Regions from separate parts of the Homo sapiens genome. Here all the other regions are linked to region 4. Evidence: fine-mapped expression QTL. A gene starts in region 4. Each other region holds a variant in brackets. All regions are shown on one strand. Distances are from middle to middle.

Region 1 (5,068 bases), 37 kb after region 4:
CTTGGCCAGGTGCAGTGGCTCACACCTGTAATCCTAGCACTTTGGGAGGGTGAGGTGGGTGGATCCCTAGAGGTCAGGAATTTGAGACCAGCCTGGCCAATATGGTGAAACCCCGTCTCTACTAAAAATACAAAAATTAGCTGGGCATGGTGGTGGGCGCCTGTAATCCCAGCTACTTGGGAGGCTGAGTTAGGAGAATCGCTTGAACCCGGGAGGTGGAGGTTGTAGTGAGCTGAGATTGTGCCACTGCCCTCCAGCCTGGGTGACGAGAGTGAGACCCCGTCTAAAAAAAAGGTCCCTGCTTACCCCACTGCCTTGGGGAACCCCCTCTGTCCCCCACACAGTCTCCGTATATGCCTGAGTCTGTGTTTGGTCTTCCTCGTCTCTCCACAGCAGGTCTGCCCCGTGGGTTGTTGGCCGCGGTCGGATGCTCAGCCGCTTGAGAATGCTGTCTCCTGCCTGGGTGCGTCTGGCTCCCCTCTGCGCGTCCTGTTTCGTGTTATTTTTTAGAGTTTGTGCATTTCTCTGTGTACTTTGGTACACAAATGCTTCTTTGAAGTTAATACGTGGCAGTAAAGCTGGCACTGGGGACGGCTAGGGCGGTGGATGGCGTGTGTCCTGGAGGGCGGGTGTGCTGGCAGAGACTTAAGGATGAGGTTAAGGATTCTCCTAAGTCCTTTTCTTCTGGGGGAAGGAGACTCGTGGGAACCCCTCCAGTGCAATGGCCTCGCCATTTCCACACGCCGGCCCCTGGCACTTTCCACCATTCGTGTGCTCGGCTCCCAGCTCTTGCCCTGCCACAGGCCCTCGCTCCCTCCTCACCCGGCCTGGAGTGCATGGCCCACAGTGGGCCTGTTCTCACCGCGCATCCCGCCAGCTCCTTGGCCCTTCTCAGCCCTTGCTGCCCCCCGGGCTCATACACCTCTACCCACGATCCAGAGACGGATCGTCAGGCCCACCCCAGCCCGGCAGCTTCCTAGAGCAATGCCCTCAGCCAGGCATGTTGTCTGGGGACGCTCGGCAGTGTCTAGACACAGCCAGTCCCTGTGACCCGGTGTGCATGTGTGCTGCCGTGCACGTTTCAGCTCCCCAGTTTCATGTAGTTGAGAACGCTTGACTGTGAGATGCACCACGGCTCTGTGCTCCCTGGGAGTCCCCGTACCCCCGTGCGGTGAGCGTGAGAAGTCACCCACAGAGGGGCAGGAAGGCGGTTATATTTTAATGGTCACAGGTGGGCAGTACCCCTGGGTGTTGGGCAGAGGCCACCCCTGCTCCCCTCCGGAATACACTCCCTACTGTCCAGGCAGCCCTCAGATTACAGCCCCCAGCCTGACCCCAGAGACATGCAAATATGGGACAGACGTAAGGCTTTGGTGCCGGAACCAGGAGCATCCCGGGCAAAGTGAGACGAGCTGGTCACCCCCTGCACAGTCTCCCACTTCCCCAGGCTTCATTCTCCCACCCCTGGAAGTGGTAACCCTTCTAGAGGTACCTGTGTAGCGTCTTCCTTTTCTGCGCGCTCTGTGTGTGCCGGCCTGTCCTGCGGCCGTCACCTGGCAGATAGCTGCTGTCCCAGGGATCCAGCACAAAGCTTGGAGATGCGTCTGTGCAGCCCACTCTGTGGCTGTGTGTGGAGTTGATGGTGGACTTCTGTCACCCCATGACATCTGAGGCTACAGGAGTGGCCTGTGGAGATGTTGGTGGCCAGGTGGCACAAGTATGGAGAACACAGATGCCCGGGGCAGCTGGCAAGAAGGGGCAGGTGCTTTTGAAAGATGTTACCAAACCGTCCTTCCCAGTGGTGCTGCCAGGCCACTGGGGCATAGATCAGTGTGGGCACCTGTTCCTCCATGGCCTCTGTGACCTGTCGTGTCATTGGACTTGCTGGTCAGCCTCCTGAGTGACAGGATGGTGACAGCTGCCACTTAGGGGACCTCATTGAGCTTCCTGAAGACCCCACGATGAGGGTGTTAACATGGGGAGCCCCCTTTACAGATGAGGAAACTGAGGCCCCAGAGGTGGGGGCCTCACCCTCCTCCGGGCCTCATGGTGGGTGGTGGGGGTTCACCTTCCTTTATTTGCATGTGGATATCAAGCAGTTGTCCCAGCACTGTTTGTTGAAACACCTTTTCTTTCTGCATTCAGTGGTCTTGGGACCAGGCCTTGGGGGACTGTGCTCTGTACCATGTCCTCACCCAGGACGTCCCTCTAAGATCGCTCTTAGAGGCTACAGGGCCACGGGGGAGAAGGTCCCCACCATTCTCCAGCGGCTGCCTCGCCACACAGCTGGGAGGGATGTGGGGTAGAGAGCCCCCTGCTTGGCACTGGCCCTGGGGGTCTAAGTGATATGAGGGGCAGGGGTCGCCCCTGCAGTCACCGCGTCCTCCTCTGGCGGAGGTGAGTGGTGATGCTGGGTCACAAGAGGTGGCTTCTCATCCCAGTGGTCTCGTGCTGCACTTCAGGGCCTCCATCACCTGATCTGGGGGCTGTGGGGGTCCTGGGAGAGGGCTCATGGGTAGGGGACAGTTTTTGATGTTCTCTTAGTGAAGGACAGAGAAGAAGGATGGGGGGCTGGTGGCGGCGGCAGGGAGCCAGGATGGT[G/A]CTGGTCCCGCCTCCCTTCCTTCCATCCCTGCTGCAGGCCTGCCCTCTTCATGCCTGGCTCCCCGCAGCCTCTCCCTGTCCCCGTCTGTCCCGCCACTACTGGAACCCCACCCTGCCTCTGGGTAGTGTGCACCCCATCCTCAGAGCGGAACCCCCATCCCCTGGGCTTGTGGGGGCTTCACTTCCTGCTGTTTCCCCGCAGCCCACGGCCATTCTCCTGCTCCTCCCACCCCTCCTCACTGTCCTTCCTGGCACTCCAGGCCCCTCCGCCGCATCTTTCTGACTCGTGTTGCCACATCATCTGCCCTGGCTGGGGTTTTATCTCCCTGGCAACTGGAAATGTGTTGGTTAAGATATGGTGAGTTAGGCCGGGTGCAGTGGCTCATGGCTGTAATCCCAGCACTCTGGGAGGCCGAGGCAGGTGGATCCCCTGAGGTCAGGAGTTCAAGACCAGCCTGGCAAACATGGTGAAACACCATTTCTACTAAAATTACAAAAATTAGCTGGGCATGGTGGCGCATGCCTGTCATCCCAGCTACTTTGGAGGCTGAGGCGGGAGAATTGCTTGAACCTGGGAAGCGGAGGCTGCAGTGACCTGAGATCATGCCGTTGCACTCCAGCCTGGGCAACAGAGCGAAACTCCATCTCAAAAAAAAAAAAAAAGATATGGTGAGTTAAGAGGGTAACCAGCCCTGGAGCTGACAGCCTGGGTTAGCACCTCTGGGACTTGGGACGGCCTCCATGTTCCGCTCTGTGAAGTGGGAGTGACAACAGTGCCTTTCCCATGGGGCTGCTGGGAAGTGACTCAACGAGGAGCACCAGCAAGGGGACACCAGAGCGGGCCCCAGCCACCTCCTGGCAGAAGCATGGGGCTCACGAGGCGGGGCGGGGGTGGTGAGGACCAGGCGCAGACCTGGGCAGGGACCTGGGCGGAACGGGGGAGGCGGAATCTTCTAGAAGGGCCTTGGGGGAGGGCCCTGTCCCCACCATCCCTCGTGAGCACCCCCTGCCAACCTCCATCTCCCATTTGAGAGTTGGGGAACGTAGCAAAGTTATCTCAGGACTGGAATATGAATGGCAGCTCTTGGCCAGGCTCTGCCATATTGGAGAGGTTTCTAGAAGGTCCTGGAAGCCCACTGGCTCCTCTGTCATTTTCGGCATGGTTTTGGCCTCTCCTCTTCTCCCTTGCTTCATTGCTGTGATGTCAAGCATCTCTTCCTGTGACTGTTGACTCTTTTTGTATCTTCTTTGGAGAAATGTCTGCTCCATCCTTTGCCCGTGTTTTCTGTTAGGTTGTTTGTCTTTTGTTGAGTTGCAAGAGTTGTTGACATATTCTGCATACAAGTTCCTTATCAGATAATGTTTTGCAAATATATGTTCTCCTGTTTTGTACATTGTCTTTTCACTTTCTCTCTCTCTTTTTTTTTTTTTTTTTTTTTGAGACAGAGTATTGTTCCATCTCCTAGGCTGGAGTGCAGTGGCACAAACATAGCTCACTGCAGCCTCCAACTCCCAGGCTCAAGCGATCCTCCCACCTCAGCCTCCCGAGTAGCTGGGACTGCAGGTGTGCACCACAATGCCTGGCTAATTTTTTTCTTCTTTATTTTTTGTGGAGATGGCATCTTGCTGTGTTGCCTAGTCTGGTCTTGAACTCCTGTGTTCAAGTGATCCTCCCACCTCTGCCTGCCAAAGTGCTGGGATTATAGACATGAGCTGCCATGACCAGCCAAGTCTTTTCACTTTCTTGAGGTCTTTGCAAACAACTTTTCTTTTTCCACATGCACTTTTGGTGTTTTAGCCAGAAATCTTGCCTGATCCAAAGCCACGAAGGTTTAATCCTATGGTTTTCCTAAGAGTTGGGTAGTTCTGAGCTGGGTATACTAGCTCACATCTATATGCCCAATGCTTTGGAAGGGTGGGTTGGGAGGATCGTTTGAGGCCAGGAGTTTGAGACCAGTGTGGGCAACATAGGAAGATACTGTTGGTACAAAAAGTTTTTAAAAAGAGTTTTGTAGTTTGGGCACTTACATTTAGATCTATGACCTATTTGGAATTAGTATAAATATATGGTGTGAGGTAAGGGTCCACCTTCATTTTTTGTGTGTGAATATCCAGCTGTCCCAGCACTATTTGTTGAAAAAACTGTTCTTTTTGCATTGAGTGGTCTTGGCACTGTTATTGAAAATCACCTGACTTTAAGCGTGTGGGTTTATTTCTGGACTCTCAGCTTTCTCCCGTTTATCTAATGTCTGTACTTATGCCAGTACCATGCTGTCTTGATTACTGTAGGTTCATAACCGTGAATTATTTTTTGTCTAGTCTTGAGTGTAGATGTTAAGGAAAAATAATATGGTTCTTACATTAACATATAGAGACCCAGATTAGCTGATGAGACTACAGCCTTCTTAGTTGAGATCCAGAAAACCCTGGCTGTTCCCTGCCTCCTTGTTTCTTCTTTTTCTTTTTC
Region 2 (5,068 bases), 200 kb after region 4:
TGTTGATGCCTGAGTGTTTCCCATGTGAAAGAAAAACTGCTCGCAGTTTTGGTTTGTTTTCCCCCCTCCCCCACCCAAGAACCTGCAACAGTCCCTGGACCCTGCTGATCGTAATAGTTGCGCTCACCGAAGCAGCAGCAGAAACACTAGTTTTCCTCCTAGACCACAAAGAGGACTGAGGAAGGTCAGATTTAGTGGCCCTTACTGATGCATTCTCGGAAACATGCATCCTTGCCTTTCCTCTTAGACCACAAAGAAGACTGAGAAAAAACAGATTTAGTGGCCCTTACCAACACATTCTCGAAGACCTGTTAGAGTCCTAAGCATTTTCTCCTGTTAGTATTGGGACCTTACCCTTGTTCTATAAAGATGTTATGTCTCAAAATGGAGTGAAGGGCCATACCCTGAGGGAGGGAAGGGATCTCTAGAGTGATGCCTTTTGTCCTCACTTCTCATCATGTGAATAGGAAGGATATCATTTCTGAGGCTCCCCATATCCTAGCTTTGGGAATAGCCTTTGTTAGGCCTGCTAGTCTGAGGAGGGATCCTAAAATTCCAGATAGTCTCCCCACTGACAGGGCTTTGGGCAAAGATTGTCTTTCTGATTGGTGAGCCCAGATGCCTAAAGAAAGGAACAGAGTCCTGAAATGTATACTAGAAGTCGTTCTTATAGGAGAAACTAGAAAAGCACCAGAGACAGGGAGTGGTTTTTAGAAACAGGACTAGCCTCGGAGAGGAGAGGTGGGAGGAAGTATGTCTGACAGGCATTAGGACCCAGGAGGCAAGGGTCAGGATAGATAGGATAAATGGGCAAGTCTCGCTTGGGTGACGTGACTTTGAGAGTTCCGCTCATGGCTGCAGGGTCAACCAACTTTTTGTCAGGGCCCTGGAGCTAAATGGCTTTCCTCTCTGTTGACACTTGGCTCAGTCCGGAAGTACAGGAAAAGTGGAAGCTGGTTCCAGGCAAACCAACGCTCCCAACTCCAAAGAGTTGGGGATTGTTAGAGAGCCCTTTCCCAGAAAGCCCGACACCAGTGTCTTTAGTCTGGTGGCCACGCTAGTTGCTTTTAACTGGCCGACAAGTGCCCGGTGTTTAGCCCCTGAATTCTAAGGAAAAATAGGACAGAATAGCAAGCAAAATGGGTCCGATGGTACTCACCAAAAGGCGATATCCCAGACAAGCCCCCAAGATGTGTCCAGAGTTGGTTCCTTCCAGTGGGTTCGTGGTCTCGCTGACTTCAAGAATGAAGCCGCGGACCTTCGTGGTGAGTGTTACAGCTCTTAAAGGTGGCACGGACCCAAAGAGTGAGCAGCAGCAAGATTTATTATGAAGACCAAAAGAACAAAGCTTCCACAGCGTGGAAGGGGACCCGAGCGGGTTGCTGCTGCTGGCTGGGGCGGCCAGCTTTTATTCCCTTATTTGTCCCTGCCCATGTCCTGCTGATTGGTCCATTTTACAGAGTGCTGATTGGTCCATTTTACAGAGCACTGATTGGTGCATTTTACAAACCTCTTGTAAGACAGAAAAGTTCTCCAAGTCCCCGCTCGACCCAGGAAGTCCAGTTGGCCTCACCTCTCAGTCTTATCAATTCTGCCAGCTGCTACTGAGCCCTTGCACTGTGCTAGTTTTTCCCAAGCCCACACACACACTGGGGAGCCAGACACTGAGGATACAGCAAGTTCTTGCCCCACAAAGCCCATGCCCTTTAGAGGAGACAGATGCCAGCATCAACATTACCAGGTGTTAAGAAAGTACCTGGGAATAGTCTGAGTCCTTCAAAAAGTTAAACACAGACCAGGCTTGGTGGCTCATGCCTATAATCCCAGCACTTTAGGAGTCCGAGGCGGGTGGATCACCTGAGGTCAGGAGTTCATGACCAGCCTGGCCAACATGGTAAAACTCCATCTCTACTAAAAATACAAAAATTAGCTGGGGGTGGTGGTGAGCTCCTGTTATCCCAGCTACTCGGGAGGCTGAGGCAGGAGAATCAATTGAACCCAGGAGGGTTGCAGTGAGCTGAGACCGCACCATTGCACTCCAGCCTGGGCGACAAGAGTGAAACTCCATTTCAAATAAAAAGTTAAACACAGAGTCACTGTATGACCCAGGAATCTGACTTCCAGGATACACCAAAAGAATTGGAAGCAGAGACTCAGATGTTTGCACACCATGGTCATAGCAACATGATTCACAGTGGCCAAAAGGTGGAAACAATCCAAGTGTCTGTTGTTTGATGGATGGGTAAACACAATGTGATCCATCCATACAATGGAATATCACTCAGCCATTAAAAGGAATGGGGGTCTGACACAG[G/A]CTACAGTAGTGTGGATGAACCTTGGCATCATGCTCAGTGAAAGAAGCCAGACACAAAAGGCCACACAGTGTGTGATCCCATATCTATGAAATGTCCAGGACAGGTCAATCTACAGAGACAGGAAGGGGATTGTAGGTTGCCAGCAGCTGGGGCCAGGGGAATGAGGAGTGGCTATTTAATGGGCATAGGGTCTTCTTTGGGGGTATTTGGGAATTAAAGAGAATTGGTGACTGCACAGCACTGAGTGTGTCAAATGTCACTGAATTGTTCACTTTCAAATGGCTAACTTTATGTGAATCTCACCTCAATGAAAAAGAAATACGGGAAGGATAGACAAGAAACTAAGGATGTTGGTTACCTACAGGGGCAGGTGGGAAATTATTTAAAAGAATTAGGGCAGTAGGCAAGGTGGCTCATGCCTGTAATCTCAGCACTTTAGGAGGCCAAGGTGGGAGGATTGCTTGAGGCCAGGATTTCGAGACCAGTCTAGGCAACATAGCAGGACCCTATCTCTGAAAAAAAAATTGTTTTTAATTAGCCAGACGTGGTGGTGCACACCTGTAGTCCCAGCTACTCAGGAAGCTGAGGTAGGGGGATCATTTGAGCCTAGGAGGTCAGGGATGCAATGACTCGTGATTGTGCTACTGCACTCCAGCCTGTGTGACAGAGCCAGATCCCATCTCTTAAAAAAAAAAAAAAAAAAAAAAAAGGCTAGGTGCGGAAGCTTATGCCTGTAATCCCAGCACTTTGGGGGCCAAGGCAGGTGGATCACGAGGTCAAGAGATCGAGACCATCCTGGCTAACACAGTGAAACCCCGTCTCTACTAAAAATACAAAAAATTAGCCAGGCGTGGTGGCGGGCGCCTGTAGTCCCAGCTACTCGGGAGGCTGAGGCAGGAGAATGGCGTGAACCCGGGAGGCGGAGCTTGCAGTGAGCCGAGATCGCGCCACTGCACTCCAGCCTGGGTAACAGAGGGAGACTCTGTTGCAAAAAAGGAAAAGAAAAAAAAAAAAGAGGCTGGAAGTGGTATGGGAAAAAGAGTAGCAGGAATGAAGAGGGAGTGCCCACTCTCTGAGAACCATTTGGTATAGCTCTGACTGAAAAATCATAGTCATGTTATACACACTTTAAAAGATAACTGATTAAAATCAAGGATATGATGTGTACTCCAAATGGAAAACAAATAGTAAAATATAAACTCAGCTGCACCACAAATGAAAATCAACCACACTGAAGAGCCAGGGGAAGAATGGAGTTGATCTCAGTAAATTTGGGAAACAATGTTTCCACTGGATACTGTTAGGCTAAAAATGAAAATACCTATACACCAACACTATACTCTAGTTCAAAAATCTAGTTCTCATGGCTTAGCCATCTGTACCTACTATATGTGAATATTGCAATTGAGCAAATGAGTGAATTAATTGTAGATGAGCTAGGTTTCTCTCTGTCAGCGAAAAAAGTTACGTCAAGGGTAAAGGAAGCGGCTAGAATGAACATTGTGCTGGTTGGAATCAGAAGTGTCAGTATAGGCTGGGCGCAGTGGCTCATGCCTGTAATCCCAGCACTTTGGGAGGCCAAGGTGGGTGGATCATGACGTCAGGAGATCGAGACCATCCTGGCTAACACAGTGAAACCCTGTCTCTACTAAAAACAAAAAAAAAATTAGCTGGGCGTGGTTGTGGGCGCCTGTAGTCCCAGCTACTCGGGAGGCTGAGGCAGGAAAATGGCATGAACCCAGGAGGCAGAGCTTGCAGTGAGCCGAGATTGCGCCACTGCACTCCAGCCTGGGTGACATAGCGAGACTCCGTCTCAAAAAAAAAAAAAAAAAGTGTCAGTATCAATCCATGATTTTCTAATATATATATATAGACAGATGTTATAGAAATATATAGTCAGTACATATAGATGCAGAAATAAATATGTAAGTATATATATTTATATTATGAATACAGGTGAAAGGGCTCAAACTTGTAATCCCAGCTATTTGGGAGACCAGGGTGGCTTGGGGAGAATCGCTTGAGGCTAGGAGTTCAAGACCAGCCTGGACAACATAGCACAGCCCCATCCCTACAAAAAGAAAAATGTTAAGAAGAAATAAATAAAGATGTGTGTACACATGGCTAATCTGATACCCCAATAGCAGTGAGCATACTAGCACCCCGATCTAAATACCATTCTCCAATAAAAGGAACCAGGGGAGGAATCACTGATTTTATGACTGGGACAGAGAAAACACAAGACAAGGTACAGGCACATACCGCTGTGCCCAGCTAATTTTTTATTTTTTTTGTAGAGATAGGGGTCTCACTTTGTCGCCCAGGCTGGTCTTAAAGTCCTGGGCTCAAGCGATCCTCCCGCCTTGGCCTCCCAAAGTTGGCCATACCCAGCCTACATGAATGATTCGATGGGGGTCTGGGCTCGGTGACTCATGCCTGTAATGCCAGCACTGTGGGAGGCTGAGGTGGGCAGATCACCTGAGGTCAGGAGTTCGAAACCAGCCTGGCCAACATCGCAAAAACCCATCTCTACTAAAAATACAAAAATTAGCTGGGCGTGGTGGTGGGCACCTGTAATCCAAGCTACTCGGGAGGCTGAGGCAGGAGAATCACATGAACCCAGGAGGTGAGCCGAGATCATGCCACTACACTCTAGCCTGAGCAATACAGCAAGACTCCATCTCAACAACAAAAAAAAAAAAAAAAAAGAGAGAGAGAGAGAGAGAAAGAAAAACAGAAAACACAAGATAAAC
Region 3 (5,068 bases), 160 kb after region 4:
GATGGGCGGCTTTCCTCCCCTGACAGTGGCAGTTGCCCGCTGGAGAGAAGCCTACACCGCGTGGGAGGGAGGGGAAACCAATGGCTCGTCCAGCTGCCTGGCGTAGGTGAGGCCCTGGCCTGGTCACTCACCATCCTGTTTAAAGATGTACAGGGCAACTCGCTCCCTCCCGAGATCCCCGGGGGTCCACACGCCCGGTGCAGTGGTCACGGTGCCAGGAGGCTGGGCCTGGTGCATCTCTGAGGCCTGTGGCTTCCACGGGTCTCTGAAGGGATCAGCCCCCACAGAAAGGCCAGGGACCAGCGAGGAGGGTTAGGGGCTACGTTGGTGGCACGTCAGGGTCTCTGCCCAGGGAGGGCTCAGGACTGGTGCTGCCCACCCCCCGCCCCCCGCCCTGGACACCCTTATCTCTGTTCCACGACAGAGACTCCTGGGAAGGACCCAATCTGGCAGGGGTGGGCGTTTTCTTGGACACAGCCGTTTTCCCGGGAGCCCGAAGTCCCAGGAGCCTCTGGACGAGAGGTTTATCTCGAGAGAGCCTCATAAATGCATGTTCACAGTCAGGGGCACGACAGGAAATGCATGCCACAGTGCTGCGGGAAAGATTTCCTAAAGCGGTTTCTGGTCCTCCTTGAATGCCAGTTTCACGCCCCTAAAAGCTATGACGCTGAGGCACCTTTCAGGGCCTAGCAGTGGGGTGTGGGGTTTTGTGTTTTCATATGGAACAAGCTGGGAAGGGGCCAGAACCTGTTGCTCACAGGGGCCAGGGGGCATCAGCATCGGGGAGGAAGCCCCTCAGGAGGAGAGGTGCCTGGGGGGCGGTTGAGAGGCTGCTTCCCAGTGGCTGCTGGTGTCCCCTATCCCATTCTTACTGGCTGCTTCAAGGTCTGGGAAGAGCGGCCGCCCTATTGCCCAGCGCTAGGAGGGACTAGCAGCCCCACCAGCCAGCCCTAACCCCAGAACCAAGCAGAAAGCAGGAAGGCGGCCTCGTCCACCTCTCCTGAGCCTCCGGGGAGGCCCCGCCTCCTGGAAGAAGGCCTGCAGTGCAGGACACACAGGGTCAGGGGGCAGAGCCAGGATGGGGACCCAGGAGGGCTGGCATAGTGCCGTCCTGCCTCCCAGAGGGTGGAAAGGCTGCGGTGAGTGGGGCAGCCAGCCCCCAGCCCTTCCCCTCCCCTCGCCCCGGAGTGCTGCTCTCAGGAGAGGCCTCGTGGCTGGTGACTGGTTTTAGAACACGGAAAGCAAAGGCTGCCATGTCTGGAGGGCGGCCCCAGCTCATAGTGAGGGGCTGTGAGCTCAGCCCGGGGACCCGCCAGCACATCCCAGCTGGGCCTCTGGGACCGTCAGGCGCACCCGGCTGCGGGTTCAGCACGGGAGGGTGGCAGTGTTGAAGGGGGTGGCCAGAGAGCCCCTGAGACCGGGGCTGGTTGGCCCAGGCATGGAAGCCAAGCACGAAACTTGAGGGAGGGGCCCCATAAGCCAGGCCGAAGCTGGTGAGTTGATCTCGGCAGCCTCGGAGCAGGAACAGAGTGGTGTCCTTGGAAATGGGTGGTTTCTTGCCCCCTCCACAGGGCAGCCTGGGCCTCGGGCCTGTCTTGGGGTTTGCTGGAGGCTCTGGTGGAAACCCCGGCGCTGGGGAGGAGTGGCCTCGCCACCAGGCAGGCTAGTGAGCCCTGGTGGTGGGGTTTCCGCTGTGACACCTTCCCTCCACCCAAAAAGAGTGCTAGCAGGGCCTCAGCTGGCTGCCCTCGGGGGCCTGGGTGCATCCTGGGCCCCATCTGTACCATGGTCCCTGCTCTGTCCTGAAGCCCCTCACCCGCTTCCCTCCCTCAGGCCAGGCAGGTGAGGGGCGTGCCAAGGTCCCTGTGGAGTGTAGTCCCCATGGCAGGGACAGAGCCCCAAGGAATGGCCCACAGCAAGGACAGAGCCCCGAGGAATGGCTGCGGGGTGTGCCGCCGTCTTTCAGGGTGTCCTTCCTAGCCTTGGGCATCTCCCTCTAACAGGGTCCCCTGTGTGTCTGCCCGGGCTTCACTGAGCCTGGGAGCCGACAGGGAGAGGGCTGGAAACTTGTTCTTGTGAGTTTGAGAATCCAGGGCACCAGCAGGTGCGGGCTATGCGTGGAGTGCGTTGAGGCTGCCGCCATTGTCATTCACTGCTGTCTCCAGACAGGGGATGGGGTGGCACTCATCAGCCGGGCACCTGAGGCTCAAATTATGTCCCACTTTGTCTCCCATGCCTGGTCCCTCCGGGAGACAGAACCAGGCAGCCAACCAGGGAGGGCTGTGGGGAAGCGGGACTTGGGGCCATCCCTGTCCTTGGAGGAGGAGGGAGAGAGCCCTACAGTGTGGCCCTTGGTGAGAGGACAGCCCCCGGGAGGCCTAGGGGAC[G/A]ATGGTGGCCTCAGCTCCCCACCCAGCCTTGCCTCCCGAGCAGAACCAGGGCCTGGGGCGGTCACACCAGCCGCCCCTCAGCTCCCAGGAGGCCCCGTTGGTCGGGGGAGGATGCCAGCCCCTTAGAGAGGCGGGGACTCCCCAGGGACCCTCTGAGCAGGCACCTGTGGTCTCGTGAGGACAGCCCGGCTCTGTGTCTCTGGCCCCACAGCCCTGGCTGGAGTCCCCTGTGCACAGAGCTGCCTGTTGTGTGTGAGGACAGCCCAGCTCTGTGTCCCTGGCCCCACAGCCCCGGCTGGAGTCTCCTGTGTGCGGAGCTACCTGTTGTGTGTGAGGACAGCCCGGCTCTGTGTCCCTGGCCCCCACAGCCCCGGCTGGAGTCCCCTGTGTGCGGAGCTGCCTGTTGTGTGTGAGGGGTGGGTGGGGGTGCCGGCTGGGGACTCTGATGAGTGTTTCCTCCTCGCCTCCTTCCCCAATTCCTCATGTGTGCACTGAGTGGCCCTGCAGCTGGAGGCCGTGAGGCTGTGTCCTGGCATCTTCCTCCCTCTCCTGAGACCATCGATGCCCCAGGTGGGGCCCTCCTGGGCCAGATCCCACGCCAGCCCCTGCCCTTGAAGTTGAACCCGGCTTGGGAAGCCGGCCCAGCAGTGGGGGGCCTGAGTCCCAGTCCCCGGTGAGGCTGGATGGGCACCGCAGCCTGCAGTCCTGAGTGAGGCTGGGCAGGCGCTATCATGGACGAAGGAATATTGGATTTCCTTAGGGGAACAAAGCTGTTTGTCCTCAAGTGCCTTTTACACACGCAGGACAGTGGCTTTCCTGACAGGCGCTCGGGGTGAGGCGTGCGGCCTCTGCAGCCTCCCCGGGCTGCTCCAGCTTCCAGCCCTGGTGAAGCTTCCGGCCCCTCCCCTCTGCATCTCCACGCCTCTGCTCCCAGCCTCCCAGGGAGGGGGTGCCTCCCCTCTGGCATCGGCAGGGAAAAAGTATTTCTTCCCACGCCAGCCTGTCTGCTGTGTCCAGTGTTTACCTCCCCTGGCCAGATAACAGCTGAGGGGCCAGATAACAGTGGAGGCGGGGGGCGGGGGGGGGGGTCATATAACAGCGGGGGGCCCGGATACCAGCGGAGGGGAAGACTGCGCTCCCTGCAAGGCCAGACAGGACCTGGGGGTGTTCCAGGCTCCCCTGCCGGGGTGGAGGTCAGGGAGGAGCCCGGCCAGTGCCCCCAGTGCCCCAGAATGCTCAGGACTAGCAGGGGTGGGGGCCAGGGCAGTGGCGGGGGCTGCCTTCACCTTATGGCTGCTCGCCTGTCCTTCTTGAGAAACAGGTGGGCGTGTGCCTGCCAAGGACACCGTGGGCGGTCCCCCAAGCCTGCAGATGGAGCTGGGTAGGGTGTGGGGAGGAGAGCTGGAGCAGGGAGGGCAGGGCCGCCTCCACTCCTGGGGGAGGCTGTGGGCTGGGGGCCCCTTGTGGGAGTGTGTGGGGCAGTGTGGCTTCCTCCTGGCTGCAGGGTCTGTTGGGGGAGGGTCCTCACTTGACCCTTACTGGGGTCAGTGTGGGTCAAGGGTTAAGTGTCACCCTCGGCCCTTGGGAGCCTCATTGCTGAGGGTCTCAGCGCTTACCACTGGTCCTGGCATCACGGACTGTGGAGCTGGGGGCAGCCCGTGGTGGGTTTTATAGCAAGTGGTGAGATGTGGGCGCTGTGCTCCAAACCAGACCCCGTTAAGTGCCACATGGTCAACAGTTTAGTGTGCAGAAATGAATTTCCTTCTCTTAATTTTTCCTTATTTTTCCAGCCTGTTGGGGGAGGTGGAGGTGGTGAAATGTTAGCAGTGACCAGTTCATCCTGATCTGCTTGGGACCTTCCAGTTTTAGCACTGAAAGCCCCACAGCCCAAGAATCCCTTGGATATCAACCACGGTTCCTCCTTCCAGAATGTCCCAAGAGCCTTAGGGCCTGGAGACACACAGGTGGGGGCCTGAGCCCCTGTCCCCCTCCTCCAGATGGAGCAGGCAGGGCCCCAGGGCCCCAGGGCTCACGGTGTTCTGGGGTCCACAGTGTGCTGTGCGGCCAGGCTGGTCTTCCTCGAGGACAGGGCTCCAAGTTGCCGTGCCACAACTTACCCTGAGTGCGGCGGCCCTCAGAGGGATTGCCCCGGCACGAGCTTCCCACAGCCCGACACAGAGCGCCGCTGGGCTCACATGGAGCTGTGTGCAGGGACAGGCCCTCCTGGGCACTCCAGGACAGAAACCTTTCCCAGCATCTAGAGGCCCCTGCATCCCTCAGCTCGAGTCCCTTCCTCTCCCTTCACAGGCACAGCGCAGCCTCTTCCAGTCTCTCTCTGACTCTCACCCTCCCGCCTCATCTTGTGAGGGCCTTGTGAGGACATCGGGCCTCTTGGATCATCTAGGATCACCTCCCATTTCACTCAGTCCCACCCACAGAGTCCCCTCTGCCAGAGTCCCCCATGTCCCTCTGTCATGTCCCACATCCACATGTCCAGGAGAGTTGGGACCCGCACGCTTCTGGGGGCTGTGATTCAGCCAGCCAGGCTGCTCATCCCAGTTTTATTTTATTTACTGCAAACCCGTCCTGGCCCCAAAGTAAAATGCCACCAAACACATGAGTCAACTGTCCCCTCCCTGTCACCTGTCAGGAAATCTCCCCATTGCTGGCCCCGGGGAGTT
Region 4 (5,068 bases):
TTTTTCTCATAAGAGATGGCATGAAAACTTTGTCTAAGCAAAATAAAGTGGAGAACCCATTTGGGTTCCTCGGTTAAAAACATTTATATTGTCTGTGAAATCTAAACACCCCCCACTGTCTCAGAGAATATACTTGGAAGTAGAACAAAAAGCCCTATGTATGTGGTACGTGGGGTGGGGACTCTTTCCCTTCATGATTGCACTTTTTTTTTTTTTTGAGACAGGGTCTCATTCTGTTGCCCAGGAGTGCAGTGGTGTGATCATGGCTCACTGCAGCCTCGACCTCCTGGGCTCAAGTGATCCTCCCTCAGCCCCCAGTGTAGCTGGGACCACAGGCATGTGCCCGCACAATCAACTCGGTTTTTATTTTTAGTAGAGAAGAGGTCTCGCTCTGTTGCCCAGGCTGGCCTGAAACTCCTGGGATCAAGTGATCCTCCCACCTTGGCCTCCCAAAGGGCTGGGATTACAGATGTGAGTCACTACACCCAGCCTGGGCAACAGCCTGTTTTTAAATTTTGTTTTTACTTTTTATTTTGAGACGGGGTTTGACTCTGTCACCCAGGCTGGAGTGCAGTGGTGTAATCAACGGCTCACTGCAGCCTCCACTTCCCCGGGCTCAGGTGATCCTTTCGCCTCAGCCCCCGAATAGCTGGGATTATAGGCGCGTGTCACCACGCCCAACTTTTGTAATTTTTTTGGTAGAGACGGAGTCTTGCTATATTGCCCAGCCTGTTCTCAAACTCGTGGGCTCAAGTGATCTGCCCATCTCAGCCTCCCAAAGTGCTGCGATTCCAGGCATGACCTGAAATTAAATCTCAACTCCATGTGGAATATATGAATATGGTCCCATAAGAATTTAAAACACCCAGAGCTTCTTAAATTCTCCTTTGACTTCTCTTTTTACCAGTGTGCAGCTTTCCTTCTCTCCCCAAGGATTAAGTTCGTTTCTTCAGTTTAGGAGTACCTTTTTCTGTGCATTGACAAGCTTGTGTGCTCTTAACCTCATGATACCGGTTTCTGTGTGTGTTTCCATATTTATTTTATTGAGTACAGGATTCTGGACCACTGTCCCTAGCTCAGCGGTTGGGAGATATTTCATGTTTGCAAACAGATCGGCCTTCTCTTTTTTCTTTTCTTTCCTTTTTTGAGACAGAGTCTCACCCTGTTGCCCAGGCTGAAGTGCAGTGATCTCGACTCACTGCAACCTCCGCCTCAGCCTCTGGAGTAGCTGGGATTACAGGCATGCGCCACCATGCCTGGCTAATTTTGTATTTGTTAATAGAGACAGGTTTTTGCCATGTTGGCCAGGCTGGTCTCGAACTCTGGACCTCAGGTGTTCCACCCGACTCGACCTCCCAAAGTGCTGGGATTACAGGTGTGAGTCGCCCGAGCCACAGCACCGGGCCTGGCCTCCTTTTCAATTGCTACATAGTAAGTATTCCAGAGTACTGATTGCTATTAAGTTACTTCTCTAATCCCCCACTGATGGATAGTTAGTGCAAAACATTGGAAACAGTTGCAGACAGCCCTGCCGCCGGCATTCTTGAATTGTGTAAGCTCCAGACCTTTTTTCTGGGTACATCACCTCCAGGAAGAACTGCTGGCTGGGTTATCGGGTGGTGGATGCACTTAGAATGTTATTAGAAAATGTCAAATTGCCCAATTTACACTCCTGCCACTCCAAATGGGGGCATGCCTCACACCCCTGCGTGGTCCAGTACACAATGAATGCTCATTTTGTGAAGTCACAGGGTCAAATCTTTCTCCGTGCCTCATCCCACTTAATCCTTGCAACATTCTCAAGAGGCGGGTAGACGGGGTGTGGCCACTACCATCATATCCATTGCACAGTTGGAAACAGACTCAGCGAGGTTACTTTGCTGGAGGTCAACCACAGTGAGGCATGGGGCCCGGCTTAGCTTTGAATCCAGGTCAGAAAGCACCAAAGCTCATTCTCTCCCATACATTTTAGGGAACTCGGGGAGAGGGACCCTAACTATTCCGAAGGCCTTGCCCCTTGGCAAAGGTTTGTTGATTGTGATGGGAATAGACCTACGGTGGCGGGGTGGAGGCTCTTGCTGCTTTACCCTATGTTCTCGGTTCTCCTCCTTTGCAAAACGGATCGCTATGTCTCCTTGCTTGGCACTTTGCAAATTGGGGAACGCTAAGCCCACATTCCGGCCACGGGTTTCGAACCTCCAGCCTGCACGTTCCCGGCCGGTGCTGATGCTGTGCTGGGTCTCACGTACTCAGCCGCCGCCTGATAACCAGGGCGGGGCCCGGAGCTTGCGGGCAGTGATTGGCACCTGCCCCAGCCTGTCCGCGCCTCGGGCTGGCCCCTCAAGCCAATACTGGCTCCTCTCTGTGCGGTCGTCGGGCGGGCCCTGAGGCTCCCTTGTCAATCCAAGGCCCAGCTGCCGTCGGGTTGGTCGCGGCAGCCTTGGCTGGCGTGCGCCCCCTCCAATGAGAACAGAGCCGGTCAGCGGGCACGTGGGTGGGCGCCGGCGTGTCCCCGCCGGTCTGCCAATGAAGAGGCGAGGCCGGCGTTTGTCCCCGCCCAATCGCGGCGCGCGGTGGGCGGGCCGTGCGGTGTTGATGGGCCCGGCGGAGGGGAGGGGCGGAGCTGTCAGCTCCGGCCAATGGGCGCTCGGGCGTGGATCCGGCAGCCAATGGCAGTCGGGGCGGAGCTGGCGCGCGGCCTTATAAGCCCCCCCGCGAGCGCTTGCGGAGGGCTCGGTCGCCAGCAACCGAGCGGGGCCCGGCCCGAGCGGGGCCTGGGGGTGCGACGCCGAGGGCGGGGGAGAGCGCGCCGCTGCTCCCGGACCGGGCCGCGCACGCCGCCTCAGGTGAGCCCACGGGGAGGCCGCCCGGCCGTGTCCGAGCGCGGACCCCGCCGCCATGGCCGCCCCCGCGTCGCGGCTCGGGGCTGCGGGCGCGCCCGGGACTCGAGGCCCAGGCCTCGGGCGCGGCCTGCTCGGGCCGGGCCTCGCGCTTTGTCCGGGCCGGCGGGGCGGTTGGGGCGTTAACCGCCCGGCCCGGGGGCGCCCGCTGGTTTTCGGGCGGGGGCGGCGGGGCCGGACAATGGCGGGGCGCGCCCAGGGGCGGGAGCGGGGGCCCCTTCCCGGGCCGGGGGCGCGCGGGGGCTGGGCACAGACGGCCCCGGCGCCCCGCACAAAAGATGACAGCGTGGGTGGCCCCGGCCGGGCCCTTTTATCACCCGGGACAAGCCTCGGCCTATTATTATTATTATTTTTGAAAGAAAGCAAGAAAAAGGAAAAAGACCCCAGCCCCTGGGTAACCCCCGCCTGCGTTTCTGGCCCTTTGGGCGCCAGGGGGGCTAAGGGGAAGCCCCCCAGCTGGACACCCAGGGATGCCCCCTAAATGCCTATCATTGCTCCTGCACTGCCCCCACCTCCGGTCAACCTGCTATGCCTTGGTAGCTTCCAAACTTGCCCCCCTGTACGTACCCGAAACCCCCACCCCGCCATAAGCATATGCAATCTGGATTTTAGAAAAAAATCATCTTGCTATGCAACGGCAGCCTCCACGAGTCTCTCCGTCCCTCCCCCTTCCAGCCTGATCGCCATCTCGAACGAAGCCCCTGCTCTAGAGAAATGAATTGAGGAGTTGCTTCCGCCGAGACCCCTTTTCTGTGTCCCCCGTGGACATCCCCCTGGGAGCTGGGGACGGACTCGCTCTGAAATCTGCTTGACCTGGGGTCTGCCAGGGCCCAGGTCTGCGCTCAGTGGTGGCCATGACAATCAGGCAGGACGGGGGACTCTGTCCACCTGGGCACGGTGGAAGGTTTTAAGGGGCATGTTTTCCGCCCCTGGGGGCAGTGGAGGCATGGACTGCTTTTGGGTGCATCCCATCTGTTTGCTTGGGGGAGGATGCTTCTGTTTTAATAATTTACCAGCACCCTGTGAGGAAGTGTTCCCCGAGTTGTGAAACTAGTGAGAAGGTGGTTCAGCTCCGTGGAGCCTAGTGATCCTGTCATATGTGAAGAGCGTCTTTTTCCATGTGTTTCTGGCTGGGGCGTGTATTCAGCAAGTTCCTTTGGGTCCCACCGGGTGCCTGCACTGTCTTGGGATCTCTGGATACTGGACTGAATTCAAGGGATCGGTGCCCTGCCCCAGTCCTCTGCCTCAATGGCCATTTATCAGAATGTCCCCGGGCTGGAGAATGCTCCTAAAAACAGCACCAGTCCTAAAGCAGGCTCATTAGACGACTCCTATGGGCTTTTATCACTGCCGTTATGGGAGCTAATGACTCCCCTAATTCTCCAATAATAGCTTCCTTATGAGCCACCAGGAGGGTTTGTCAACACACGGGGTCAGCCTTCTCCTGCAGCCCCTGCTGAAGCAGTGGGCATCCTCTCTCCGCTTTGCAGTTTATGTTTTGAAACCCTGAAGGTCGGAGCGTAAAGCCGTGGTAGAGTCAACTTCTGTCTGAGCCGAGGATTTCTGGGACTTGCCAGCCTCGTCTCCGTGTGTCTGATTGGACACCTGGCAGGTCCGGGCGCTCCCCCTCCTTGAGCCGGCGACACCAGGACGGGTCAGACTGTCCTGGCCTAGAGGAGGTCACCGCTGGGGAGGAAAAGGGGGTAACGGAGATTCTGCCGCACAGACGGGTGTCTGTGTACAGGCTGTTTTGGTGGAAGCGTCTACTGTGTCAGGAGCTGCGGGTGCCTGCGTGTGCACGTGTGTGTTTAGTTGCTGAGACCTGAAATATATATGTCTTAGTAACAATCCGTTTGCTCGCATTTTCTAACCCTTTCCTCTTTGGGGAGGGGGCTGCTAACAAGATGTTAACTGCTGGCGCTTAAAGGTATAGCTGATCAGCCACCGCACAGCACCCCGCCTGGCCTTTGTTGTACTTTTCTGTCTCGTGGAAGAGACCCTTCCTCAGCCTCCTGCCCTGTCTTCAGTCCCTGTCCCGTCCTGCAGGAGCCCTCTGGGGTGGCCAGGGGCCGTCCTCTGTGTCCTTCTCTCCCACCTGACCACTCTGCCTGTACTTTAATTCCTAATTTCTCTGTCTCCTCTGCTGGTTTCCTGCCCGTTTGTCCTAT
Region 5 (5,068 bases), 66 kb after region 4:
GGGAGGACGGGCTCCAAGGGCTGGGCATGGCGGCACCGCTGGTTCACCCTCTCTCGTCTTCCTCCACAGGTGTGCTTCCCGCACAGCTGCAGCCATGGGGTCTGAGGACCACGGCGCCCAGAACCCCAGCTGTAAAATCATGACGTTTCGCCCAACCATGGAAGAATTTAAAGACTTCAACAAATACGTGGCCTACATAGAGTCGCAGGGAGCCCACCGGGCGGGCCTGGCCAAGGTGGGTGACATCCTGGCCCCAGCGCGGCCCTCCATCAGCCTGCGCCGCGGGCCTGCGGACATCCTGGGTCCCAGCTCAGCCAGCCCCACAGGCGTGGCCTGTGCACGTGGAATGTGTTTCGGGGCCACTCCCAGCTCGTTTACCAGCGCCTGTTTGTGGAGTTCCAACAATGTGCCAGGCACCATTCTAGGCACTGGAGTTGAGAAGTGGCCGGTGCAGGCCCTGGCTCCAGGGAGCTGGCAGGGGGTGGTGAGGACACACAGCCACACTGCAGTGAAGCCCAGGGGCAGTGGGCCACCAGGTTGTTCTGGCCGTGAGCTGACGTCTCACTGAGGGACGCCTTCCAGGGGTGTTCAGTGCCCAGGAAGGCCTTACTTTCCTAGTAAAACTTTTTTTTTTTAAGCTGGGTATGGTGGTGCATGCCTGTGGTCCCAGCTATTTGGGAGGGTGAGGCAGGAGGATTGCTTGAGCCCAGGAATTAGAGGCTGCAATGAGCTATGACCGTGCTACTGCGCTCCTGCCCCGGCAGCAGAGCAAGACCCTGTCTCAAAAACCAAGTCAGACCACACCAGAAACAATCTTTTTGAGATGGCAGAGTGACTGGGTCAGGAAAACTCAAACAGGGCGACAGCGCAGGTACATAGTGACCAGGAGCCTCCTCCCTGTCCCGACCCAGTCCCCCACCCTCTCCCTGGAAGCAGCACTGTTATTGGTTCTTCTCTCTCTCTCTCTCGGCATATTGTGCACGCGTGTACGTGAATACACACAGCAGACCCCCGAACCCCACATGCTGAGTATGTACAGTACCATTCTGCTCGTCTGGGCATGGTGGCCCAGGCCTGTAATCCCAGCATTTTGGGAGGCTGAGGCAGGGGGATTGCTTGAGGCCAGGAGTTCAAGACCAAGCTGGCCAACACAGTGAGATCCCATCTCTACTAAAAATACAAAAATGAGCCAGGCGTGGTGTTGGTACATGTCTGTGGTCCCAGCTACTCGGGAGGCTGAGGCGGGAGGATCACTTGAGCCAGGGAGGTTGAGGCTGCAGTGAGCTGAGATTGCACCACTGCACTCCAGCCTGGACGACAGAGGAAGATTCTGTCTCACAAAACAAAACAAACTTAAAAGTTGGTGCTGCACGTTTCACGGCTCTGAAGGTGGCTGCCGTGGTCCGTGAGTCTCTGTGTTCGGGTGTGGGCCTGTTCGAGCAGTGCTCACCCCTCAGTTTGGAAGATGAATCGTCGTTGCATTTTGGGTTCTTCCAGTTGCCTGCTGTTTGACTATCGCTGTTCTTCCTCAGTTAGGCCAGGGGTTGGCGGGCAGTCTCTACACACGGCCAGAGGGTGAACGCCTAGGCTCTGTGAGCCAGAAAGAGCAACCAGACGCCGTGTGAATGAAAGTGCACGGCCCTGTGCCAATACAACATTATTCCTGGATGCTGGAGGGCAAACGCGTATTGTTTTCACGTCTTCTGCTTTTTTCTTTTCCCCCAACCACTTAAAAATGAAAACAAACAAACAAAAGCCTTCATAACTCAAAGGCTATACAGAAGCAGGAAGGGGCTGATTCGGCCCGAGGGCCGCAGTTTGCTGAGCGCTGAGGCCTCCTGCCTTTCCGGGCCGCCTCCACCCTGCCCCTCCCTCCACTCCCTGGTTTTGGTGGATTTTGTCAGTAGCCTTCGTCTCTCTCCTAGTGATCCTTCGGTATCAGACTCGCATTGTTATTTCTTTGTCTCTGAGCTGTAGAGCGAGGGAAGCAGTCTCGCACCATCTTTTCTTCCCCTCCAAGATGGATGTTTTTTCTGTTTTGAGAGGGGGTCTGGCTCTGTCGCCCAGGCTGGGGTGCTGGGGTGCAGTGCTGCGATCACGGCTCACTGCAGCCTTGACCTCCTGGGCTCAAGCAGTCCTCCAGCCTCAGCTTCCCGAGTAGCTGGGACCACAGGTGTGCACCACCAAGCTGGATTTTTG[A/C]TTGTAACACACCATGACGATGTGGGAATGATGGCACATCTGTGTCCGGGTCAGAACGGTGGGGGCTGCTGCCGTCCCGGCTTCAGTTCTGTCTTTAAAAGGCTTTGGTCCTCCTATCTCATCTCAGACCGTCTTCTCTGGCCCTCTAGGCCACAGGCTGCTATCCCAGGAAAGGCCCAGGTCCTCCTCTTCCTCCTCTCCCTGGTGCACATAGGGCAGGTGGGACAGGCGTCGCCTCCCTTTATCCTGGCACCGCATCTGCCTCTGTCTCCTGCCCTTGACCTACTTCCACATTTCCCAGGATGCAGCAGCCCTTTCTGGCTTGGGATCCAAGGCGTCCTGATGTCAGGACGTTGAGGGGAATCAGCATCTCAGACCGCCCTGCGCTCTTCCGAGGTGCCTTTAAATGCCCGCCCCGTCACTTCTTCCTCATCCCTCACCTCCCACCGGGCTCCATGCCCCGGTGTTTCCGGCTCTCTCTGCCCTCCACGTGGCGGCCTTGGGTGCAGCCTGGGTTCCCGGGTGGCCTGTCCTCCCCCGCGCTGGCACCTCCGCTTCGTCCCTCCCTCCCTCTGCCTCCTTGGCTGCCGCCTCTTTGAGCCCTCATGTCGCTGCTTCAGGTTTCTGCACTCCCCCCAGGCCAGTTCCCCCGAGATTCTTGGCACCGGCGTCTTAAGCCAGTGTGGGGAGTATGGTTTCCCTGCCTTGCGTTCTGCGTGTTCCTTCCCATGCCTCTGCAGCGGCAGCTCCCATGCTGCTTCTCCTTGCACCAGTGCAGAGAATCCTTTCTCAAACCCGTGGAGGGGGCTGGGCAGTAGGGGGCCGTCCGGGTCCCATGCTGTGGAGGGGCTGTGTGTGCACGTGTCTCTGTGTGTGTGTGTGTGTGCGCGCGCGCGCGCGCCTGCGCGCACAGGAGACTGAGGTGGGGAGGCAGCTCTCACACAGCCCAGAGAGCTTGGCAGCTGCAGAGTCACGTTGGCACCCGCATGTGGCACACGCACACCCCCTTCTGCAGCTCTGTGGGGACAGATGGGCTCAGGGAAGCATCTGCTCTGGCCCTGGGCAGCCCTGCGTCTTCCAAATGGGGGGCCCTTGGCTCGGGGCAGCCAGCCTCTTTGGAGAAGGAGCACAGTGCCCTGCTGGTTCTGAGCGAGCTGTGGGGGTGTTGGGGTCCCCCTCTCACCCTGGTCTGCCTGCCTTGACCACTGTGTGTGTGCGTGCATGTATGTGTGTGGTGGGGGAGCTGGGGGTTTCCTGGTTCCATCAAAACTGTGTTTGGTTATACATCGCCCCTGCCCCCAGCAGAGATCTGCAGGCCCGATGGAGCTCGGTGGGGGCGGGAGCTGCGGGCACAGCCCTGAGAGGGCCCTGGAGCTGGCGGTGCCCTGGGTGCAGGAAGCCTTCCACTGGAGTTGCTGGGCCCTCCACACGGGGTGTCCCCGACCACTTGGGAAGCACTGAGGTGAGAGGAGCCCTGGAAGGCCCCGTCGGGGGTCCTGTTGGGAGGGGTGGGAACTTCCAGTGCCCCTCCACCCCCACCAGCTGCCTCCCAGGCGGGTGCCAGCAGGGGAGGCCCTGGCTGCCCTCAGCTATACCACCCGCCGGCATCTGCCTCTCACTGTTGGCATGTGGCCGGTCGCCTTCCTGGCCTCAGCTGAATCTGGCCCCCCAGGAGCCCCGTGTGAGGCACTTTCAGGGGCCGCCGGAGGCCTGGAAGACCCGAGTGTGGCAGTAGGAATGTCCCGAGCGGCTTTCAGTGCCTCCTTTTCAACCCTCCCCGCCTGGAGCCCTCCTTCTGGATTTGCGTCTCGGCAGATTGTGGGATGTCACTTCTGTCCTCTTCCGCCCTGCGGGATTTTCCCAGAGCCTTCGGGTTTGAGCCCAGCTGGAAGTGGCCCTCGTTCACGCTGCCTGTCAGCACCTGCCTGGGCTGTGTCACCTAGAGTGTGGCTCCGTGTGTGCGGCGCAGACACCGTGGGGGTGTTTGGAGCTTCCTGCGTGGCTCCCAGATGTCTTTACTACACAGTGCCCGCCGTGGAAGGGACAGATGAGCAATGTAGCCCGAGGCGTTCTTTCAAGAGCAGAGGAATCGGGAGCGAAGTGTTTTTGTTCATTTAGCAGACTAGGATCATGGGCGAGTTTCCTCTAATAGCACTGAAGAGGCGAATTCACGGCTTCCCCTCGGCCAGCGGCTTTGGCGTGGATTTGGAGCCGGGCCAGGTTCATGGAACCCTCCTGCAGAAGCAGACTGGGGCTTCCTGGAGAGGGGGGACAGTGTCTGTGTGATTCAGAGCAGTGCTGGCCTGTGGGTCTCTGACCATACCACTCAGTTCTCTGTAGTAACATCTCGTGTCTGGGACACAGGCCCTTTTGTTTCTGTTTCTCGCCTTTCCACTCCTCAATGTCTTCGTGTCTCACTGACTCTTCAGCTGCTCCCCTGAAATCTAAGAGAACGGCAGCCCCGCAGCTGCCCCAGCACCCTGCCATCACACAGCCTGTGCCAGGGACAGGTGCCCCAGGCGCCTTTTGCACTGTGGCCATAGTGGACATGGAGAGTCTCCAGAAAGAGCCGGCGCTAAGCTGGACTGTCCTTTCCTTGGGACCGGCCTCATCTTGGTTTAACTCTAAATTAGTGTTTCTCTTCGCTTGGCACTGTGGACTTGGGGCCGCATCGTTCTCTGGGGTGGCGCCATCCTGGGCATTGCAGGGTGCTGAGCAGCTTCCCTGGCCTCCATCTACCTCATGCCAGGAGCACCCTCAGTCGTGAAAGCCACAGACATCCCCAGACATGGCCAGGTGTCCCCTGGGGGACAAGACCCCCCCTCAGTTGAGAGCCACCTGCTCGCTGCGGCTGCTGCTGCTGTTACTG
Region 6 (5,068 bases), 180 kb after region 4:
ACGTTCCAGGGAGGCCACTGGGAGGAAATCAGCCTGAGTCTCCAGTCAGCCCCCAGTTCCCAAATGACCCAGGCACAGAAGTTTCCCTGGAGCCCACTTGGACCCGGCAGTGTGAGCGCCATCCTCCTAGGCGGTTCTGTGCTCCTGAGAATCTGGGGCGGATCTCTGCAGTCTTCCTGACCCAGAAACCTGAGCCAGTTTCCACTGAGTTTCTAGAACGCGCCTTCCCCTCCTGGCAAGGCTGCTTCTGTGCCTGACTGAATCACTGTGTGCCACGCCTGCCAGAAGCCGAGAGGCCGAGTCGGGGCCGGGGAGCTGGGGAAAGGCAGCAGGTGGGCCCTGGGACTCCTGCAGTGGGAGCTCTAAAACCCGCTGCTGCCCGTGGCAAAGCGGAGCCTCCAAAACCCGCTGCTGCCCTTGGCAAAGCGGAGCCTCCAAAACCCGCTGCTGCCCGTGGCAAAGCGGAGCCTGGCCACGCCGGGGGTGGAAATCGCTTTCCGGGGTGCTGGGGCTCCGACACTAGGACTCCTTCACCCAGACTCTCCTCACCGGACAGACGCTGGGAAGGGGCCTTCTCCCGGTGGCTTTCCTCTACAAATGAGATGGGTAGGACGGGGCAGAGGGTGGCACCCATGTCCTTGGTTCCCAGCAGGCTCCTCCACACATCCCCGAGAGATGTGTGCTGTCGTCCCAGGACACGGCCCAGAGGCAACCGGCCATCTGAGAGTCCACACTGGGCACTCCCAGCCCTGCTTCTCCCGCCGCCTGCGCCGGCCAAGAGGCATGTGGAACCCACAGCAGACACTTGCTCCAGGGCCTACGTCTGTCTCCATCCCCACCCATCCCTGGAGGAGTCACAGGGACCGGCAGGCTTGGCTGCCCCAAGGCAGGGTCTGTGCTCCCTTGGAGAGGGAGGTGCTGCGATCCCGGGCCCCCCCGCTGCACACTACGTGGGGCGTCTAGCCCCAGACACACTTCCGCGATGGTCTTACTGTGTGACTTTTATACACTTCCGTCATGGTCTTAGTGTGTGACTTTTGTACGCTTCTGTGACAGTCTTATGTGTGCATTTTGTTCATTTTGAGACGGGGTCTTGATCTGTCACCCAGCCTGGAGTGCAGTGACATAATTAGAGCTCACTACAGCCTCCACCTCAGCCTCCTGGGTAGCTGGGACCACAGGCACATGCCACCATGCCTGGCTTGTTTTGAGTTTTTAAATGTGAAAAGCGAGCCCTCTGATATGGGAACCTTCTCCCCCTGGAGCAGAACGGCAGTCAGGCCCAGGGAGTGACCCCAGCACCTTTCCTGGCTTGGGAACACGGCGCCCATCGCAGTTATGAGGTGGGCCTGGAGACACGCCCCTCCCTGGCACGCCCTTCATGGGACAGTGTTGTGTTGCCAGAGGGCCCCTGAGAGAGTCTCCGCGAGCCTGAGCTGGCACCAAGCTTAACGAGGAGGAAGCGGGGTGCTCCCAGTGCCCCTCACCAGTCAGGCATCTGCCACCTGGAACAAGGCACCAGCTGGGGAGGCTGGAAGGGGGTGATTTTTCTCTGAGTTGAAGGGAAGAGGTGACTGAGCTGTTTTCAGAGGGCCACACATAAGCCAGGGACCCTGTCCTTCACCTTCTGGTTGGGGGCTCCTGAGCTCAGGCCCCTGAGTCCGCCTGTCCGGCCTCCCCTGCCTCCCAGGCCCTGTTAGGGCACTGCGCCTCCTGCCTGGCTCTGTGTCCACCAGTGACTCTGTCACCTTGTCCTGGGGCTGTGTCTTCATGGAGACAGATGTCTTTTGAGCTGGGAGGAGGTGAGGGGTGAGTGTTCTGTCTCCATGTGGAAGCTGCGGGGCCCTGCCTCTGCCCCAGGCTGTCCCGTCCTCCGTCATCCTTGCCCCGTGGTACGGGACCCTCAGCCTGATCCTTGTTTGCTGCAGGCGGTGTCAGAGGTGGACATGAGCTTCAGCTTGGCTGCATGTGGCCTCTAGCGGGCCCCATGCACCCAAGGGGGCTGGCCTCCCAGCTCTTGAGGCCGTGGCCTGCCTGGAGCACCTGCCATCCTGGCAGTGCCAGGCCCCTGAGAGCCACATCCCCCTGCAGGTGGAGTTTGAGGACGGGTCCCAGCTGACGGTGAAGCGTGGGGACATCTTCACCCTGGAGGAGGAGCTGCCCAAGAGGGTCCGCTCTCGGCTGGTGAGTGCGCGAGGCTGGCCTGGTGGCTCCGGGTGACTCAGGGAGCCCGTCTGGGACGAGGCAGGGCACAGACTGCGTCTTCCAATGGCGTGGACCACCCCCTCCTCTTGCACCTCTGCTGGAAGGGGGTCCCGGCCGCCCCAGCACAGCTGGTCCATGGGCTCCTGGCAGGAGACCCTTCCTTTGCCTTGACTCCTGGTGCCGCAGCTCCTGGGCGATGCCGTTAATGTGGGGAGGGAGGGTTGGAGAAGCCCCGCCCCTCCCCTTATCA[C/G]GAATGCAGAACAGACCCTCCCAGCCCCCTGTGCCCTGCAGGACCCGCGCTGCCCCACCCTGCACAGGGCGGCCTCTGAACCATCACAGGTTTTGGGGTACAGGCGAAGTACGGGCACCCCAGTTGTCGGCTTAAAAAAGCTTTTCCTGAGGTTTTTCCTTATTAAACGGGAGCCTGAGTCCTGGAGGCAGCGGAGGCAGCTCCAGCTTTCGCTCCCCCAGCCCTCATGGGCTTCCTTTATTCTCTTTCTAATCGAGAGGCGAGAGGCGAGGTGTTGAGGGGCAGAGCCCGTGGGGGAGGTTCCTGGTCCTGGCCACAGCTGCTCAGCCGCAGAGGGGTCCCTCGGAAAACAGATGGGAGCTGCCAGATGGACGGTCCCAGCCCCAGCCAGGGTGCCCACCCCACTAGGGGGCCAGAGGCTGGGGCCGAGTGCAGGGCCCCTCTGCTGGCAGGATCAGGGGTTTACAAACACGAAAACAGGAGCCTGCTGAGCAGCCCCCACAGCAATCAGGGCTCTGTGTCCAGCCAGCTCCTCTCAGAGGCCATAGACAGTGGCTGGGGCCGCACAGAGTGTCTCCACCGTGCTAACCACTGTGCTTCCGCTCTCCCGCAGTCACTGAGCACGGGGGCACCGCAGGAGCCCGCCTTCTCGGGGGAGGAGGCCAAGGCCGCCAAGCGCCCGCGTGTGGGCACCCCGCTTGCCACGGAGGACTCCGGGCGGAGCCAGGACTACGTGGCCTTCGTGGAGAGCCTCCTGCAGGTGCAGGGCCGGCCCGGAGCCCCCTTCTAGGACAGCTGGCCGCTCAGGCGACCCTCAGCCCGGCGGGGAGGCCATGGCATGCCCCGGGCGTTCGCTTGCTGTGAATTCCTGTCCTCGTGTCCCCGACCCCCGAGAGGCCACCTCCAAGCCGCGGGTGCCCCCTAGGGCGACAGGAGCCAGCGGGACGCCGCACGCGGCCCCAGACTCAGGGAGCAGGGCCAGGCGGGCTCGGGGGCCGGCCAGGGGAGCACCCCACTCAACTACTCAGAATTTTAAACCATGTAAGCTCTCTTCTTCTCGAAAAGGTGCTACTGCAATGCCCTACTGAGCAACCTTTGAGATTGTCACTTCTGTACATAAACCACCTTTGTGAGGCTCTTTCTATAAATACATATTGTTTAAAAAAAAGCAAGAAAAAAAGGAAAACAAAGGAAAATATCCCCAAAGTTGTTTTCTAGATTTGTGGCTTTAAGAAAAACAAAACAAAACAAACACATTGTTTTTCTCAGAACCAGGATTCTCTGAGAGGTCAGAGCATCTCGCTGTTTTTTTGTTGTTGTTTTAAAATATTATGATTTGGCTACAGACCAGGCAGGGAAAGAGACCCGGTAATTGGAGGGTGAGCCTCGGGGGGGGGGCAGGACGCCCCGGTTTCGGCACAGCCCGGTCACTCACGGCCTCGCTCTCGCCTCACCCCGGCTCCTGGGCTTTGATGGTCTGGTGCCAGTGCCTGTGCCCACTCTGTGCCTGCTGGGAGGAGGCCCAGGCTCTCTGGTGGCCGCCCCTGTGCACCTGGCCAGGGGAAGCCCGGGGGTCTGGGGCCTCCCTCCGTCTGCGCCCACCTTTGCAGAATAAACTCTCTCCTGGGGTTTGTCTATCTTTGTTTCTCTCACCTGAGAGAAACGCAGGTGTTCCAGAGGCTTCCTTGCAGACAAAGCACCCCTGCACCTCCTATGGCTCAGGATGAGGGAGGCCCCCAGGCCCTTCTGGTTGGTAGTGAGTGTGGACAGCTTCCCAGCTCTTCGGGTACAACCCTGAGCAGGTCGGGGGACACAGGGCCGAGGCAGGCCTTCGGGGCCCCTTTCGCCTGCTTCCGGGCAGGGACGAGGCCTGGTGTCCTCGCTCCACCCACCCACGCTGCTGTCACCTGAGGGGAATCTGCTTCTTAGGAGTGGGTTGAGCTGATAGAGAAAAAACGGCCTTCAGCCCAGGCTGGGAAGCGCCTTCTCCAGGTGCCTCTCCCTCACCAGCTCTGCACCCCTCTGGGGAGCCTTCCCCACCTTAGCTGTCTCCTGCCCCAGGGAGGGATGGAGGAGATAATTTGCTTATATTAAAAACAAAAAATGGCTGAGGCAGGAGTTTGGGACCAGCCTGGGCTATATAGCAAGACCCCATCACTACAAATTTTTTACAAATTAGCTAGGTGTGGTGGTGCGCACCTGTGGTCCCAGCTACTCGGGAGGCTGTGGTGGGAGGATTGCTTGAGTCCAGGAGGTTGAGGCTGCAGTCAGCTCAGATTGCACCACTGCACTCCAGCCTGGGCAACAGAGCGAGACCCTGTCTCCAAAAAAAAAAAAAAGCAATGTTTATATTATAAAAGAGTGTCCTAACAGTCCCCGGGCTAGAGAGGACTAAGGAAAACAGAGAGAGTGTTACGCAGGAGCAAGCCTTTCATTTCCTTGGTGGGGGAGGGGGGCGGTTGCCCTGGAGAGGGCCGGGGTCGGGGAGGTTGGGGGGTGTCAGCCAAAACGTGGAGGTGTCCCTCTGCACGCAGCCCTCGCCCGGCGTGGCGCTGACACTGTATTCTTATGTTGTTTGAAAATGCTATTTATATTGTAAAGAAGCGGGCGGGT

What was found. PIP is the estimated chance that this variant, and not a neighbour inherited with it, causes the effect.
Region 1: its variant is fine-mapped to the expression of KDM4B in whole blood (TOPMed, PIP above 0.99).
Region 2: its variant is fine-mapped to the expression of KDM4B in whole blood (TOPMed, PIP above 0.99).
Region 3: its variant is fine-mapped to the expression of KDM4B in whole blood (TOPMed, PIP above 0.99).
Region 5: its variant is fine-mapped to the expression of KDM4B in whole blood (TOPMed, PIP 0.96).
Region 6: its variant is fine-mapped to the expression of KDM4B in whole blood (INTERVAL, PIP above 0.99).

What each region holds. Positions count from the first base shown.
Region 1 is chr19:5,003,524-5,008,591 of GRCh38, forward strand. All of the region lies in intron 1 of KDM4B (lysine demethylase 4B), which reads left to right. Among named protein-coding and RNA genes, the nearest start is that of KDM4B, 37 kb to the left of the region's middle. RefSeq lists an enhancer at 799-1,299. The variant G/A (reference allele first, on the strand shown) is at 2,602.
Region 2 is chr19:5,164,206-5,169,273 of GRCh38, forward strand. No RefSeq gene overlaps it. Among named protein-coding and RNA genes, the nearest start is that of PTPRS-AS1, 11 kb to the right of the region's middle. RefSeq lists a silencer at 1,355-1,574. The variant G/A (reference allele first, on the strand shown) is at 2,315.
Region 3 is chr19:5,125,397-5,130,464 of GRCh38, forward strand. The region is part of intron 11 of KDM4B (lysine demethylase 4B); the gene reads left to right. Among named protein-coding and RNA genes, the nearest start is that of PTPRS-AS1, 50 kb to the right of the region's middle. RefSeq lists enhancers at 1-489, 490-1,027, 1,028-1,564, 1,488-1,547, 1,565-2,102 and 5 more and silencers at 1,208-1,297, 3,232-3,396, 3,640-3,689, 3,720-3,769. The variant G/A (reference allele first, on the strand shown) is at 2,388.
Region 4 is chr19:4,966,385-4,971,452 of GRCh38, forward strand. It overlaps KDM4B (lysine demethylase 4B), which reads left to right and starts at 2,729. Exons shown (of 23, transcript NM_015015.3): 1 at 2,729-2,846. RefSeq lists silencers at 2,193-2,292, 2,603-2,902 and an enhancer at 4,169-4,218.
Region 5 is chr19:5,032,797-5,037,864 of GRCh38, forward strand. It overlaps KDM4B (lysine demethylase 4B), which reads left to right. Exons shown (of 23, transcript NM_015015.3): 3 at 70-235. The coding sequence starts at 95. Among named protein-coding and RNA genes, the nearest start is that of KDM4B, 66 kb to the left of the region's middle. RefSeq lists an enhancer at 3,881-4,455. The variant A/C (reference allele first, on the strand shown) is at 2,200.
Region 6 is chr19:5,148,267-5,153,334 of GRCh38, forward strand. KDM4B (lysine demethylase 4B) reads left to right here. Exons shown (of 23, transcript NM_015015.3): 22 at 2,092-2,184; 23 at 3,069-5,068. The coding sequence ends at 3,245. Among named protein-coding and RNA genes, the nearest start is that of PTPRS-AS1, 27 kb to the right of the region's middle. RefSeq lists an enhancer at 2,998-3,769. The variant C/G (reference allele first, on the strand shown) is at 2,456.